2 separate regions of the Homo sapiens genome follow, and region 1 is linked to region 2. The links come from fine-mapping of genetic effects on gene expression. A gene starts in region 2. The other region holds a variant in brackets. All regions are shown on one strand. Distances are from middle to middle. Region 1 overlaps REEP1 (receptor accessory protein 1). Region 2 holds the start of MRPL35 (mitochondrial ribosomal protein L35).

The links. PIP is the estimated chance that this variant, and not a neighbour inherited with it, causes the effect.
Region 1: its variant is fine-mapped to the expression of MRPL35 in esophagus muscle (GTEx, PIP above 0.99). The same link has a PIP of 0.9 or more in coronary artery, gastroesophageal junction, testis and tibial artery.

The regions. Positions count from the first base shown.
Region 1 is chr2:86,219,113-86,224,488 of GRCh38, forward strand. REEP1 (receptor accessory protein 1) reads right to left here. Exons shown (of 9, transcript NM_001371279.1): 8 at 858-1,009. Among named protein-coding and RNA genes, the nearest start is that of MRPL35, 22 kb to the left of the region's middle. The variant A/G (reference allele first, on the strand shown) is at 2,173.
Region 2 is chr2:86,196,731-86,202,093 of GRCh38, forward strand. It overlaps MRPL35 (mitochondrial ribosomal protein L35), which reads left to right and starts at 2,727. Exons shown (of 4, transcript NM_016622.4): 1 at 2,727-2,803. The coding sequence starts at 2,761. RefSeq lists an enhancer at 2,546-2,815.

The DNA of each region.
Region 1 (5,376 bases), 22 kb after region 2:
TCCATCCACATCCTACAACTGAAAATAGCATATATGTCAAGGGTATTGGTTTTGGTAACCCTAAAGGGCTATACCCCTTCACTAACATTTCATGAATAGCTACTTTATACCAGGCACTATATGCTGTGTCTTGGAGATACAGCGATGAACAAGCCTTGTTCTTATTTATAAAAACTTTTCAAATAACACATTCTGAGTTTTCTTCCCCCAAAACAGTCAATTTGGGTTGTTTTTCACTTGTACGTCAACTTAGAGTGGTAGTTGTTAATACCTGGAAAAACCAAAACAAAACAATAAAGACCTAGATACTTTACCACTCTCCTATTTGTTTTTCTTTTCTTTTTTTTTTTTTTTTTGAGAAGGAGTCTCGCTGTGTCATCCCGGCTGGAGTGCAGCAGTGCAGTCTCACTGCAACCTCCTCCTCCTGGGTTCAAGCGAGTCTCCTGCCTCAGTTTCCCAAGCAGCTGGGACTACAGGTGCGCGCCACTACACCCGGCTAATTTTTGTATTTTCAGTAGATAAGGGGTTTTGCCATGTTGGCCAGGCTGGTCTCGAACTCCTGACCTCAGGTGATCCACCTGCCTCGGCCTCCCAAAGTGCTGGGATTACAGGCATAAGCCACTGCACCCGGCTCACGCTCCTATTTCTAAATGAAATTAATAGGATTTCCTCTCCTTGGCAAGTAGCTGGATGCTATCCAGTGACTGGTTCTGCTTGTTTGATGGAAGGAGATCTTTCCACCCCAGGTATTGAGGAGATGTTGGTGCCCCAAGAGATGCTGCTCCCAGGACCCCCAATCTCCAGGGCATAGCCTTTGGACAAACACACTCCAACCCACAGCCCCAGACACTGTGTACCTCCAGGGGCAATTCCATCCTTCGAGGTGCTTTATACTTGTACATGAAATCCAGCAGGTCTTCCTCCTCGTCGTCAGAAAACGCCAATGGGTTTTGGACCTGGTGGGGCTCCCATGCCTTCATACCACCCTCATTCACATCTCCCTCAACCACTTAATGTCCATTTACAATCTACACAGATGAGACAAGGTATAGCAAGGAAGCATCAGTGCAGGGAGCAGGGAAGGGCAAGGTTAGGCACACAGCACAGCAAACCAGGCCTGTGAGGACAGCTGAGGCCCCTCGGTCTGAGGAAGCACTGATGTTTTGGGGGCCTCCTTACAGGGGATCTGGGATTGTGAAAGTGCAGTTGTGTGAATCTCCAGGCACTGTGCACAGAAACAACCACAGACTCAGAATCTACTGAATTCTGAGTAATTCAGTAGATTTACTAAGGGGGCATCACTTCCCTGGGTGAAGAAAGAAGCGGCTTTAACTGAGACACATCAATCCCTGCAGCTCAGTCCTGTGATCCCACACCAGGTGAATGCTCAGGGAAAGAATCTCCTCTAGAGAGGATGGCAGCAGTGATGTGGGGTGGGGTGGGAGAGCAGTTTCTATGTTGTACATACAAGCCATGTTGACATTGTATATTATACTTGCATATTCAATTCCAAGCATCCTGTAAGAGACAGGATATAAAATGCCAGGAGGCCTTAAGTGATAACCTTAAACAAAGCTATATAGTTTTTTTGTTTGTTTTTTTTTTTGCGAAGGCCCAGTCCTAGAGAAGCAGAGAAACCTAAGGAAGGAGAATCTGACAGATGCCTCTGCCAAAAAAAATGATAGCAAGATTCCTGTTTCAGTCTGCCTTGAATACATCTGCGGGAAAAGCTTCAGAATTAATTCATCTCATTGAACGCACAGTATTTTTTAAATGTTAAATGCTAATACATATTCCATGTCATCTGCTAGGCGGTTCTTAGTTGAGATGTAAAATATCTTCTGCCCCTACCCAGCTTATCTGGTATCACACACACACATTTTTCTATGCTGCATCTATTGTTTTTACCTAGAATCACAGAATGCAAGACTAAGGGGTTCTCAAGTCATCTGGTCCAATCACCGTGAGGCCTCCAGATAGAAACCACAGCTCTTCTTGAGACACCCTGCTCCTAAGAACATATTCAGCCACCGAATGTGCTCTCTCTCCATCAACAGTGGACTTGCTAGACTATACCACCACCAGGCGTGGAGTAAAAAAACAGACAACTGAACCCTAATCTTGGGCAGCTTTACCAGTTACCACTGCTGTGCTCCCCAACAGCCAGCAGGA[A/G]GCAGCACAACATGCAAAGCTGAATTTTAGGCTGGGGTGTGATTGGTTCAGACTGGGCCTTAGTAAGTAAAGTCCTGAGATCACTGATGTTCCTTTGATTTTTAAATTACTATTATTATTTTATTTCTACTCTGCACTTCCCTCAGCTTATTTACTCTGGGCTTAGTTTGTCCTCTGCTCCCTTCCTCTGTCCTAATCAGCTGCATCCTGTTGAGCACAAAGACCAGTGACTCCAGGGAGCCCTCGCTGAATACTCTGACCCTCCCTGGCCTCCCCACTCTGAGACCCGACAGTGCTTGGAGGCTGTGCCACACAGCTTGTGTTGGGTGCCCTGGTCCTCATGTCAGTCTCATTGCCTCAGCCAACAGAAGGCATCCTGAGACTGGGGGGCCATGGCTGATCCTCCCTCAGTCTCTCTGAGCACCTGACCCAGGGCTGGGCACACAGTGGCCACTCATCAACTAAACTAAATAGAATCCTGAAGTCATCTCAGAGAGCTCAGCTCTAGTCCCAAGTCAGAGCTTGACACCCCCATTAACCAAACCAGGAAATTCCTTCTGGACACAGATACCTCCTGCCTGGCAGGAGGGAAAAAAGACCAAAAGCCCTCAGACCAAGGCAAAAACTGCAGAAGCAGCCTGGCCAGCTCCACCCCAGCAGCCAACTCCATGACATGGAAGTGGGGTGGGTACCGGTTCGAGACTGTGCCTCTGCATATGCTGTACCCTCCACATCCAGGTCCAGGGCTTTCCCTGTACTGATGGTTGTGGGTGTCAGAAGGTGGCCCAAAGTCACCGTGAGATCCTCAGGCATCTAACAACCCAGGCTAGTTATCCAGTCTGGATTCACTGAGGCTGAGCAATGAACTCACACTTACCAAAATCACCATCATCACTATAATCTCAGGACTGAAACCAAAATGGCTTTGTGCATGTTCTCCACTGCAAGGATTGCAGGGTAGAAAAGAAATGACCCTCCAGCCCAGTAGGAGTGATGGTTCAAGGACAACCCAGATATCCAAGCAGGAATAGAAACAAGTGCTCAGCTCAGCAGAGGCTGGGAGCAAAAGAGGCCAGTGTGGGCAGTGAGGGAGCCAGAATAGCCTCAGGAAGAAGCTACAGAGAGAACCTCCTAAGAAGATAAGACATCTCCTAGTCACTGTGTCCGCTGAGCATTTCTGCCAAGAGTGTTGTCTATAATATTTGCCTTACTCTCAGAACCAGTGAGAATAAACATTCTAAATAAGACAAGCTTCCACGCCTCTAGCTGGCTGTTGCACAGTGGACTGAATCTCTTAATAATTGTATTTCCCTCTTTGCAGTGGTTTCAAGGAAGCCAGGTGTCTCAACAGTCTACACCTTGATGGTATGCATTTAAAATGTCCTTCTCCCCACTGATTCCATCTTACTTGCCCACTCCCTTCTCCCCATGCTTCAATTTTCTTACTTTGATTTGCTACTTTAGATATATTTCCACAAGTAGACCTAACTCCTTTTTATATCAGGAAGGAGTATAAATGGAGAAATGAACCCCACAGAACATAGTCCCAAAAGAGGGGCACCAGGAGGAGCAGGAGAGTGAGTAGCTGGGTAGAAAATCCCATGCTCTGCCTCCTCCATGTTCTTGTCCCTGAAGATCTAAAGATTGGTGACCCAACAGGTCCTTACCCCTGGCAACAGGCCTGAAAGAGTATTGCTATCCACATCTTAGTACTCTAATTGGCTCCCAGAGACAATGTGTGTGGGAGGAGGGTCTCCCGCCCAAGGTCATGGCCATAACAACTTGCAAACCTCAGGTGATGGTGGCCACGGCCTTGAGCCTGCAGAGCTGCCACTATGATGCCCAAAGCTGGGTTGCTTCTAGGAAAGGGCAGGGTTTCTGCCGTCTTCCACAGCAGGGGAATGGGTGTGTGGCCTTGGCTGATGTTTCTGTATTAGCAAATGTGTCAGCAGGGCTACAGCAGCCAGGGCTGCAGGCTCCACCTCTTCTCTCTGTGGGGAAGGGAGGGAGGGAGAAACTGGCAGAGCCTCTCAGCCCTTTAAAGGCCTGTGTAGCCTGCAGTGGGCCCAGGGCTGCCGCACCCCTGCAGTGCAGCAGAACCTCCCCCAGGTTAGCAAAAACATCCCACACAGCACACATTAGCGGGAGCATTAATGGAAGGCAGCAAATGTCTGCAGAAGAGCACGCCTGTCTGGAACACTTACATCCACGTCCCCAACAGCACCGAGGAGAGAGAAAAGAACATTCCGTTAGAGAAGGGTCTTTGGCACTAAAACTCACACGTGTGCACCATGCACACATCCCCATCCACACACACTCACACACAGACACACTCACATACACACATGTAGACACACACATGCTCACTCACTTCCCATGCTCTAAACCTCAGGCAGCTCCTCCTGCTATAATCAGAAGGACACTGCCCAGAGGCCACACTCAAAATGCAATTCTCTCTCTCTCTCTCTCTCTCTCTCTGAGAGGACAAAAAGGATGACTGCTTTTAAAAATTATGTCCTACATGCTTGATTTTAAAAGGGGGGGAGGGACACCTCTATGACTAACCACACAGGCAGTAATCCAGAGTTCAGTTCTATATGACATAGAGGTAGGCAGAGAAAAAAAAAAAGAGAGAGAGAGATAATAATAGACACACAGAAAAAGAGAGACAAAGACATGCAGAAAACAATAGGGAATCAGTTGACAAATGGGGCAGGAACAGAGCAAAGATGGGAAAAGAATGTTCTGGCATCTGAGATGTGCAGCTTAGAATAGAGGCTGCTGCCCCTGGGGCCTCTAAGCTCTGTCACTGCCCTAAAAGGCACTTAGCAGCCTCCGAAATGCCTCCTTTCCCTACCCCCATCATGAATTAAGACCTGAATTTACAACTCCTAGAAAATGTTCCTGTCTGCTGAGGGATCCTGGGGCTCTGCATGGCCCCAGAGGTAATTTGAATCTTCCCAGGCTTTGGCCTGAGTGAGCACCCCTTGTGACAACATTTCAGGGGACCAGGAGGAAAGTGTCCCCGACAACTGTGAAATCCTCTTACTGCTTAAGAGTCAGCCTATAGCCCCAGGTGCAAGACAGACCTCCCCCAACACCATCTGCCACCACTGCACAATCCAGTAGAGACTGTCAGAGCTGGGAGGACCAAGGGACACCTCATGGAGGGGGAGACTGAGGCCTGCAGAGTGCAGGGGCTTT
Region 2 (5,363 bases):
AACTTTTCTATCTTCTATTGGATTTGCAAAGTATTCCAAGTCTTAACTGGGTAATTTATTACAATATGTATTCTCTCTAGAGGTAGACTGCGCTATGACTTGTAGCATGGAGAGATGGACTTGAAAATTATCTGAAAGCAATAGTTATGTTTGTATATGTTCTATGTTCTATGGTTTTTAGGGGACTACAGTAATTACATATGTTTCATATCTCTTTCACTTAGCTTCCAGAGCAGTCTCCCGTTTTCTTTAGTAATTTTAGCAATTGAATTGCTGCCTCCCTGCCCACTGCTGTCATGCCCAGTGGTGCCGGTGTGATGACTTTTCTAACACCCTTGTCTTTGAACTTCTTAATGCCAGTGAACGCTTTCATCCTGCTTCAGTCATGTGGTGCCCGTGTGATGACTTTTCTAACACCCTTGGCTTTGAATTTGTCAATGCCAGTGAATGTTTTCATCCTGCTTCAGTCATGTACGTCACAGCCACAACTTGCGCCTGAACATCATTAGCAACCTCTCTAGCTTCAAGATCTCAAACCTCAAAATTAGCCTCCCAACCCCTCATAACCTACGTGGAGAGTCCTCACTCTCCACTTGGAAGTTGTCAATATTTTTGCTTTAAAATGTTATCAGGCAGGCCAGGCGCTGTGGCTCACACCTGTAATCCCAGCACTTTGGGAGGCTGACGCGGGCGGATCACCTGAGGTCAGGAATTCGAGACCAGCCTGGCCAACATGGTGAAACCCCGTCTCTACTAAAAATACAAAAATTAGCTAGGCTTGGTGGTGCGCGCCTGTAATCCCAGCTATGTGGGAAGCTGAAGAAGGAGAATCACTTGAACCTGGGAAGCAGAGGTTGCAGTGAGCCAAGATCACACCACTGCACTCCAGCCTGGGGGACAAAGCGAAACTCCGTCTCAAAAAAAAAAAATTTGTTACCAGGGGCTGGGTGTGGTGGCTCATATCCCGGCATTTTGGCAGACTGAGGTGGGAGGATCACTTGAGCCCAGGAGTTTGAGACCTGCCTGAGCAAAAGAGTGAGACCTCTCCCAGCACTTTGGGAGGCCGAGGCGGGCGGATCATGAGGTCGGGAGATCGAGACCATCCTGGCTAACACGGTGAAACCCCGTCTCTACTAAAAAAAATAATAATAATACAAAAAATTAGCTGGGTGTGGTGGCAGGCACCTGTAGTCCCAGCTACTTGGGAGGCTGAGGCGGAGAATGGTGTGAACCCGGGAGGCGGAGCTTGCAGAGAGCCAAGATCGCACCACTGCACTCCAGCCTGGGCAACAGAGCGAGAGTCTGTCTCCAAAAAAAAAAAAAAAAAAAAAAAAAAAAAAAAAAGTGAAACCTCATCTCTATAAACAATTTTTTTAAATTAGCAGGGGATGATTGTGCATGCCTGTGGTGCCAGCTACTTGGAAGGCTGTGGTGGGAGGATCCCTTGAGCTCAGGAATTCCAGGCTGCAGTGATTGCACCACTGCACTCAGACCCTGTCTCTAAAAAACAAAATTTAAATCAAGTCACTCACTTGTTCAAAAATGTGCAGTGAGGCCAGGCTCAGTGGCTCACACCTGTAATCCCAGCACTTTGGGAGGCCAAGGTGGGAGACCTGTTTGATTCCATACCAAATAATTGAGACCACCCTGGGCAACATAGTGAGACCTAGGTCTCTACAAAAAATTTAAAAATTAGCCAGGTGTGTGCCTGTAGTCTCAGCTACTCAGGAGGCTTAGGTGGGAGGATTGCTTGAGCCTAGGAGGTCGAGGCTGCAGTGAGCTGTGATCGCACCACTGCACTCAAGCCTTCGCAACAGACCAAGACCTAGTCTCAAAAAAAAAAAAAAGTGCGCAATGACTCCCGTTGCCAATTCAAAGAGCTTTTATGAATGTTTCAATATACTTGTCTAGCGTATGTGCCTGTTTTTGGACTCAAAGTGGCCACCATAGGTGGGAGATCAAGTTGGCAACAATAGTGTTCCAAGGTAATACACCCTATATCTTGCTCTGTACCCCAGGCTGGAGTGCGGTGGCTCAATCTTGGCTTGCTGCAACAACCGCCTCCCAAGTTCAAGCGATTCTCCTGCCTCAGCCTCCCGAATAGCTGGAACTACAGGCGCGCGCCACCACGCCCGGCTAATTTTTTGTACCCCTTAGTAGAGACGGGGTTTCACCCTGTTAGCCAGGATGGTCTCAATCTCCTGACCTCGTGATCTGCCCGCCTCGGCCGCCCAAAGTGCTGGGATTACAGGCGTGAGCCACCGCGCCCGGCAAGAATTTTTTTTTTTTTTTTGAGATGGAGTTTCGCTCTTTCGCCCAGACTGGAGTTCAGTGGCACGATCTCTGCTCACTGCAACCTCCGCCTTCCGGTTTCAAGCGATTCTCCTGCCTCAGCCTCCCAAGCCCGGCTACTTTTTGTATTTTTAGTACAGACGGGGGTTTCATCATGTTGGCCAGGCTGGTCTCGAACTCCTGACCTTGTGATCCGCCCGCCGCGGCCTCCCAAAGTGCTGGGATTACAGGCGTGAGCCACCGTGCCCGGCCCCAAGAATTTTTTTTAATAAGAAATTTTGTAGAACCTTCTATAGGCAGTCGTTTTACAGCGGCGAAGAACGGAACCCGGCAGATGACATTGAATAAATGTTGAGTGGACAACTTTGTTCTTTTCCTCTTCCTTGACTCCGCCTCCTTGCTTTCCCTTCATTCTCTTTTGCTCTTGTGCTTTTAAACCCAAAGCGGCCGCCGTAGGCGAAGGTGAAGATGGCTGCCTCTGCCTTTGCTGGTGCAGTGAGAGCAGCTTCAGGTCAGTGGAGAGCGACATACTCCATGCATGCCTTCACAGAAGGGGAAACTGGTGCGGGATGGAATGGGCGTTTAGACTGGAGGTTAACAAGCAAAAAGGGTCATTATTTAAGTTAAGAAGGTTGCGCCCAATTTTCTCTGGGGCGGTGTGACCGGCAGCCCGTACCAAGTCCCCCGACTCGGACTCACGCGGGCCTGTGTGTCACGCATTTGCCGCTTCCTTACCAGCTTTTTTTCCCTAGAAAAGAAGCCAGAGAAACTGGAACGGAGGGGGCGAGGGAAACCAAAAAGTCTCACCTAACTTTCTGATTTAGAGGCTACGACCTGCCATTCACGACCTTTAACCTTGAGAATTAATGTCTCCTAACTTAAGATTCTACACCTCTAAAATGGGGGTCATAACCACCTACCTGGGGATTAAATGAGATAATGCACGTAAAGCGTTTTGGGCAGTGCCTGACACATGGTAAGCTTGAAGGCTAATTTAATTTTTAACTACAGCCCCCGGCACAAGGGCTGGTATGAGGACTTCTTGACTGAGAGATAGCAGAAGTAAAGGCGACTAAATTAAGTTGCCGTGACGTTAAGTACTTTTTGCAAAAAGTTAAAAATCATCCAAATACCATAGGATGCTCAGTAAGTTACTTTCACACAAAATATATTGTTAGGATAACATTTTGTGGGAGAATATACGAGATCAGTCAAGAAAATGCAGCGATGTAAATTTTACCGTTAGAGAAAAGCTTTTTTTATGTGGAGTATTTTTTGTGTTCGCGAAATATAATACATATGAAGAAAATTTTATATAGTATGCATGAATGATTTAACAGTTCTAAAGCAAACACCTGTTTAACACTCAGGTCAAAACAGTGCACTACCAGAAGCCTCCTCTCCCCTATGTATCAAAATTCTCTACTTCCCCCCCAGATATAAACACTGTTCTCATTTTTATAGTTACTATTAGGTTGCCTATTTTTCCTATAGTAGTTTTAGCATCCATATGTGCATCTCAAGAACATAGTTTTGCCTGGTTTTGAACTTCACATGAATTGGTTCATACAGTATATACGCTTTAGTATCTTCTTTTACATTGTGAGATTCATTCATTCATTTTGCGTAGCTGTAATGCTTTCTCATTGCTATATAATTCTTTTTTTTTTTTTGAGACGGAGTTTCTCTCTTGTTGCCCAGGCTGGAGTGCAATGGCACGATCTGGGCTCACTGCAACCTCCTCCTCCCAGGTTTAAGTGATTCCCTTGGAGTAGCTGGGATTACAGGCATGCGCCACCACGCCCAGCTAATTTTGTATTTTTAGTAGAGTTGGGGTTTCTCCATGTTGGTCAGGCTAGTCTGGAACTCCTGACCTCAGGTGATCCGCCCGCCTCGACCTCCCAAAGTGCTGGGATTACGGGTGTGAGCCACCCTGCCCGGCCTGCTGTATAATATTATATGACTGTGCCACAATTCTCCATTTCCAGTTTGGGGCAATTATGTACAAAGCTGATTGATCTCATCCTGGCGCATGAGTCCAATTGTTTCTGAGGATGTGGGTATGTGTGAAAATCGCTGTGGAATTGCCTGGTCAGAGAATATGTATATATTCAGCATTGCCTGATATTGCCAAACTGTTGAGGCCCCACATCCTCACCAACACCTGATATTGATATTGTCAATAGATATTGTCAGACCTACAAATTTTTGTTAATCTGGTGGCTTTGTAATGGTATCTCATTGAGATTTAAATAAGCATTTCTCTGATTAATAACAAGCTATAGTGTGTTTCACATTTTTATTGGCCTTTTGAATTTCCTTTATGAAATATCCACTTAAATATTTTGCCCATTTTCCTATTGGATTGTTTGTCTTATTTATTTAGAGTATTTTTTGTTTTGTTTTTGTTTTTCATTTGTGTGTGTCCTTTAGCTTCTCCCACTCAGGCTTGTCTTTTTTACATTATTTTGGAGTGCCCTTTGACGAAAAGTTGTTTTTCATCTACTTGAATTTATAGTTCTTGTAATTTTTAAATAGATGATGTAGGTAGTTATCAACTTACTATTAATTTAGATTCTACTGAAAACAATTTAAAGAGTGATGTGACAGCTTATTTTAAAATGTCAGTATTTTAAATATGCTGGAAATTATAGCCTTTTTAACAATTTAAACTATTTGATATTTTAGATATTAAGAATTTGTGAAAGGGTAGTTTTTCAAAATTCTTTTAGGAAACATAGGATCAGAAATCTTGAAGACTCCTGGTTTCGATACTGTCACAGTCTCCTCCACTCCCATCCAGTGCAGTTCATGTCCCCCATTCATTCCTTTGATTCATGCCACATAGGGCCATTGTAATTCCCCAAATGTACATCGTCACCTTTGTACGTCCTATTCCCTCTGTCTCTTCGTACTCTGTCAAAACTCTGGTTTTGCGTTACCTCTTTTGTGAAAACATCTGTATTCTCTATACAACAGTGTGTTTAGAGTAGACTAGTCTGTATGAAAATGCCCAGACGGGGCAGAGGACTGAAGGAAATTAGTTACTTTCCTTGATGTACTGCACTTTT